2 separate regions of the Homo sapiens genome follow, and region 2 is linked to region 1. Evidence: fine-mapped expression QTL. A gene starts in region 1. The other region holds a variant in brackets. All regions are shown on one strand. Distances are between the middles of the regions. Region 1 holds the start of GALNT16 (polypeptide N-acetylgalactosaminyltransferase 16). Region 2 holds the start of LOC105370549 (a long non-coding RNA gene).

The links. PIP is the estimated chance that this variant, and not a neighbour inherited with it, causes the effect. A credible set is the group of variants that fine-mapping cannot tell apart.
Region 2: its variant is the best candidate, but not a certain one, in a credible set for the expression of GALNT16 in atrial appendage (GTEx, PIP 0.82).

The regions. Positions count from the first base shown.
Region 1 is chr14:69,258,730-69,261,624 of GRCh38, forward strand. GALNT16 (polypeptide N-acetylgalactosaminyltransferase 16) reads left to right here and starts at 1,429. Exons shown (of 15, transcript NM_001168368.2): 1 at 1,429-1,738. The coding sequence starts at 1,562. GALNT16-AS1 (GALNT16 and EXD2 antisense RNA 1) reads right to left here and starts at 1,798. Exons shown (of 4, transcript NR_184249.1): 1 at 1,561-1,798. RefSeq lists a silencer at 2,475-2,534.
Region 2 is chr14:69,298,485-69,301,379 of GRCh38, forward strand. All of the region lies in intron 1 of GALNT16 (polypeptide N-acetylgalactosaminyltransferase 16), which reads left to right. LOC105370549 (a long non-coding RNA gene) reads right to left here and starts at 2,313. Exons shown (of 2, transcript XR_943979.3): 1 at 2,169-2,313; 2 at 1-1,630. The variant A/G (reference allele first, on the strand shown) is at 1,254.

The DNA of each region.
Region 1 (2,895 bases):
AGAGGCTGGACCCTATGTGGGTCTTCGGAGTAGCCATGGTGTCCAGCAGTGCCAGCAGGAAGCAGACTCCTCAACAACTCTGCCCCGGCATTCAAGGACCTCCTGAGTTCAGACTCACCCAGCCTGGCCAACCTCAACTCCTATCAAATCCTAGGCCCCCTGCAACGCCTGGCAGCTCTCTCTCTTGAACACATCAAGCTCTTCCATCCTCTGGATTTTTGCAAGGCCTATTTCTGCAGTCTCTCCCCTGTCCTCACCTCCCCCTTCCTTACCTCTTAAGTGATTCATCCACCTTTCTGAGAGCTTTCCCAAAGGCCACCTTACAATAAATTATTTCTTCCTCTGTTGGATCCCTACTTTGTTGTTACACATCTATTCATTGAGCGCTCTGTGCCCGACACTGTGCTGGTTTCCTAAAACTCATCCAAGCCTCTTGCTTTCTGCCTGGAGTGAAGAGTAGTTCACGTTCTGATTCTCAGTGCCTCTAGGGCTGGAGCGGAATCTTAATGTCTGTGTCCTCGTCTCTCACCACCGCGTTTTGCACTTTGTCGAAAGGTGTCAGATGGTGAGATGGCTTCTAGACTGGGCTCTGCCCACTAATTAGCTGTGTGGCCTTGGGAGAATCATCCGGCCTCTCTTGCTGCCCTTCTTTCCGATGAAATAATGCTGACGATGATATTTCAGGGTTGTCCAGGGGTCAATGAGGCGGGATAGAGGGAAGCATCGTGAAATCTGGGAGCCCCAGGCCAGCGAAAAATGTGGAAGGGCCGTACCCGCACTCTCCTAGCACTGGGTGTGAGGCAGCGTCGTTTCCCCTTCGCGCTCTTCGAATGTCAAGTGCACCAGCTTCCAATCCCTCCTCTGGGCGGGCCCGGTCTGGCTAATCTCAGCTGCAGATTCCAGTACAAACTCAGGACTCTCCCCCGCCCAGCCGCCCCTACACAAGGACTCGCCGAACACACCTTGAATCCCGCGCCAGAGCGCAGCCCGGAACTGCAGCTCGCGGCGCGGGCCCAGGTCGGGGGTCGCGCGTCTCCAGTCGGTGACTCAAGGCCGCTCGGTCCGGGGGTGGGTGTGGGTCGGCAGGACCGACCAGGGCCGCGCGGGGGCAGCTGCCGGGCGTTCGGTCACCTAGCGGTGGGAGCCGAGGCTGGCTTTGGCCAGTCGCCATTCCGCCGCGGGCGTCTGTCTCGCCGGGTTCCCGGGCGCGGGAGGAAGGCCCGCGCCGCTTCCCACTCGGCGCGCTTCTCTCCCAGTGCGCAGTGGCCTGGTGGGTCAGCCGGCGGCGGCTGGAGCGCGGGGCCGGCCCTGCGCACGAATGAATGGGCGCCCGGGGGACGCGCGCGCTCGGGGCTGAAGGGCATTAGGACCGTGAGGATCGCTCCGCGATCCTGTCTCTCCCTATCACCCCCCCGCCCCCCCACCTCTCTCCTTTTTCTGCTCTGCAGGACTGAGCAGCTAGGCGCGAGCGAAAACAAACAGCTGGGGCTGCGAGCGCCCCCGCCCCGGCCCCGAGAGCACGCCGGCCCAGTCCCCCACCTGGGGCGCCCGTCTGCCCACCATGAGGAAGATCCGCGCCAATGCCATCGCCATCCTGACCGTAGCCTGGATCCTGGGCACTTTCTACTACTTATGGCAGGACAACCGAGCCCACGCAGCATCCTCCGGCGGCCGGGGCGCGCAGAGGGCAGGCAGGAGGTCGGAGCAGCTCCGCGAGGACCGCACCATCCCGCTCATTGTGAGTACGCCCCGAGCGTCGGCCGGCCGGCTAGGGAGCCGCGGCGCGCGTCCAGACCCTGCGCGGCGGCCGAGGGCGCGGGGCCCGGCCAGGGCTGAGTGCCCGCTGCGCCGGGCCGGCTTTGTATATGTTGGAGCATTCCTGCCCGTTGTTATGGCAACCTCTGCCGGGCGGCGGGGCTGGGGCGCACCGACTAAGGGAGGGTGACAGAGGGTGGGGGCTGGGAGAAAGTGCTGCAAGTTTGGTGGGCCCGGCGTGCGCGCGCGGCTGGGAACGTGGCGGCTCTCCCGGCTCTGCGCTGCCGGGGCCGGGAGTCTGGGGGCTGCGGGAGCCTCGTGTGCCCCGGAAGGCTGCCGGGCCCAGCGCGCGGCGAGCGGGCGGTGGGAACCACTCGCAGCCGAGCGCGTAGGTGGCAGTGCGCAGCCCCTCTCCAGCCTTCTGGGGGCAGAGGACATCGGGTGGGGGCGTGGGTAGGGGAAGGCTCTCTAGGCGCTGCGCCTGGCTTCGAACCCCCTTCTGAGCCGGGTCAACTTGAACCCGCTTCTTCGGCGCGGACACCCAGCTTCCCCGGAGTTCTCTGGGTTGAGGAGAGGTCTCGCACTGTACGCGTCTCTCACTCCCAACCTTAGGGTCCGCCACCACGGGTAGGTGGGCAGTGTCAGCGCCCGAACTTGGCGATACCCTTGCATGAAGTCAGCCTCGCGACATCTAAGCGGGCAGGGAAACAAAGGCAGTGTGGCACAGCGGGGGCGGCGGCGGGGCTGCGGGGGCCCTTGGCGCTCTGGGGACCCGGGCGGGGGCGTGCGGAGCCGCAGCCGCCCTGCAGGGGGCGATCCTGTCGCCGTCTCCGTCCGAGCCCCAGGTGACAGAGCTGTGCGTGGCCAGGCAGGGGCACCTGTTGAGGCGGGAGGCTTTGGCACCCGCCGAGAGTGCGCTCGAGCGGGCGCATTCTTCCAGACGGGGGCGGTTGGTGGACGAGAGCCTCGGACGACCCTCGGGAACTACCAGGGCGGGGCAGCCTGGCCGGATGAGGACCAGGAAGAGGAGAGCCGAGTGGGGCGGGGGTAAAGGAGTGAGGAAGCGTGGCGATTCCGACAAGGAAAGATCTGGGCCTGGGGGTGGAGGGGTGAGGAGATCCGCGGGGGAGGTGCAAGGTC
Region 2 (2,895 bases), 40 kb after region 1:
TCTGCACTTCACAATCAGCCTCCCGTTCCCTGTCGCCACTTCCCACGTCCTCCACCATGTTCCATCCTCACAGACACTTTGGGGGCAACTTCCCCTGCAGTTGCCCAAGCCAAGTAGTCAGCAGGAGCTTCATGGCTGTTAGCTGGAGCGGAAGGCTGGCTGCCTGGTTGCCACAGCAACAGCTGTTGTAAGTAAGTGGTCCTTGTGACAGAAGACAATTTAATAAGCCAGATCTGGGGGCCTAGTGGGAAGGTTGCTAGTGGCTTTACTGGGTATCTTCTGTGGTGCTGGAGCTGTAGGCAGGCAGGTGTGACTGAGGAGAGTTGGAGTCGGGGGAGGCCAGGCATCTGCCTTTACCCAAGGGCTGGAGGCTTTTGTCCTGCAGAGGTAGGCCCAGCCAAGAGGGAGCTGCCTCCTGTGTCTTCAGAGATCCCGACACTCAACTCTGGACATCACCCAAGGCCGAGGCCTTGCACTTCTGCTCCCAGCTAGAATGAACTAGCTTGTATCAGAGCAGTTCTTCTGCTGAGAACAACTGGACAATTTGGATGAAGCATAAGAAACATCTGTGTGCAGTTGAGACTGAGGCAGACAGGACAGGTGTCCATATCTAGGGCCCGATTTCAGCACGTGCAGTAGCCCTGGGAAAATGGCATGCTGTTTCTGCATCTCTGTGCTCCTAGTAAAACAGCAAAACTCCTGGAAAGAGTTGCCTATCCTTGCTGTGCTGTTTCTCTCCTTTCATTCTTTCTTGAATCCACTCCAGTGAGGTTTTTGTCCCTACTGTTCCTCCAGAATTGTTTGTCAAGGCTGTTCTCACTTCATTTGCTCCCTAAGGGATCTCGCCTCAAGTCTCAGGTTCCTAGGAAGCTGACTCGGAGACGGAGGTTTGCATGCAGCAAGTTTATCTGGCAGTACTTTGGAATGAATACTCGCAAGGCACACAGGATGGTGCAAAGGGAGATGCTCCACTGTGATGGTGTTGCAGCAAAGACTGTGGCTGACCTCCGGGGGTGCTCCAGAGCTGGGGCAGCCTCATCCGTAAGGTGGGGTGGGGAGTGCTGAGCAGTGTGCTGTGGAGGCATTACCTTGAGTCTTCCTAATGTCCTTAAGGAAGAGGTTCTGTCATTGTCCCCATTTTGCAGGTGCAGAGGTGGAGGCTGAGTGAATTATACATCTTGCTCACTGTGGGGAGCTGAGACTCAAATCAGGTCTTCCTGCCTCCCAGAGCCCTAGCCACGCTTCTGCTTCAT[A/G]AAGCCTCCAAGAAGCGTATTGAGGAAACTCCTGGGCCAGGTCTCTGGGAGGCCTGTGACTGTCACTCCCCTGGGCTGGCTGCTGGGAACCCCATCTTCACCATGGAACTTTCAGGCTACAGTGGAGGCTTCCCACAGATTCTGTCCTTATCTCCTTCTAAGACACCAAGGTGTCCGTGTTACAGGGTCTGATGGAGCAGCTCTGAGATGTTACAAGAGTTCGAGCAGCCTCAGAAGCAGGATGAAAGGATGAAGCCCCAGAGAGCCAGGCCTCTCTTCCCCAGCCCATCAGCGGCTGCTTTTAGCACGTGTGTGCACATTTTAGGAAGGGATGTTTCCTAGGGTGCTGCCTCCTTTCCCCACAAATGGCTCTGAAACTTGAAAAAACAAAAGTCAATTCCAAAATAAGCGAATCTCTAACCACTGGGTGAACCCCTCTGTGTCCCCTTGAAGAACTTGTATTTAAAGTGTGTGTGTGCTACACCCGCACACACACATGTGCTCTGATACACACAGACACATCCCTGTCCACAGCAAAGCTTGTGCCTGTGTATACACATAAGCACACTCACATATTCACAAATATGCAGACCCAGAAATGGAAACACTGAGCAGCATCAGCACTGGGGTGATGCCACTCCTGCCCTTGCTGTCACTGGGGCTGTAGCTAGTGATGCTTCTGCTGCTGCCACCTCTAAGGCCACCTCTAAGAGCCGTTACCCTCTAGGGAGCCCAGGCAGCATTCTCTGATCTCAGAAAACCACGCTTGCTTTTGCCTATTAGGGTCTGGGGTGATGTTTGAAGCCTGCAGGAATGGTTTTAAATATTGATTTGAGTCATCTGCAGAATCTTCCATTTCACTTGGGGTGTGCCCATTTAACCTCTGGAGAGCTACTGCCAAATCACCTGCCCTACCTGCAGGCCCTCCTCCTAGGTCCTAGCAGTCCCCTGTGCAATGACAGTTGGTAGAGGTCTTGGAGTTTGGTTCTTGGTACAGCTTCTTGAGAGATCTTTCAAAGCAAGAGGACATCCAACTCAGAATTAAAGCAAAACTCCTGTTCCTACCCCCACACTCCCCTCCCCGCCCCATCCCAAAGGCATGGGACATAGGAAGTCAGAGGTACCAACTTGGGATTTACCTTCTGGTTCTTCCTGTCCGTGGAGCCCTCCCAAATTGAATGCTTTTCAGCGGTACTCAGAGTACAAGAAATTCTTCCTCTGCATCATATTCTCTCTCACACACTTTAAAGTGCTTGCTGTGAGGCAGCCCCCTGGGAGTGCTGAGCTAATTCTATCCCTGGCTTTGTTCCTTTTTTCAAAATCCATGTTTAACCAGTTTGGCCCAAAAGGAACTTGGGGATTTCAGGCTCCAGGGAGTGCCAAAGGCTTGGGATTGCACCAGGGATTCTGAATCTGGACTCCAAGAATGGACCTCAGGAGTTTGTGAGCCTCTGAAAGCCCCTGCAGCTGCGTGAGAGTTTATGTGTGCTTTTTTCCTGAGGAAAGAGTCCATAGCTTTTAACAGGGTCTCAGCAGGTGTGCGATCACTCTTCCCTACATCACCCAGAAAAGGTTAAGAACCATTGCCTCAGGGACAGAGTATGTAGCTTTATTTTTTTAAATTATTATTATTTGAGACGGA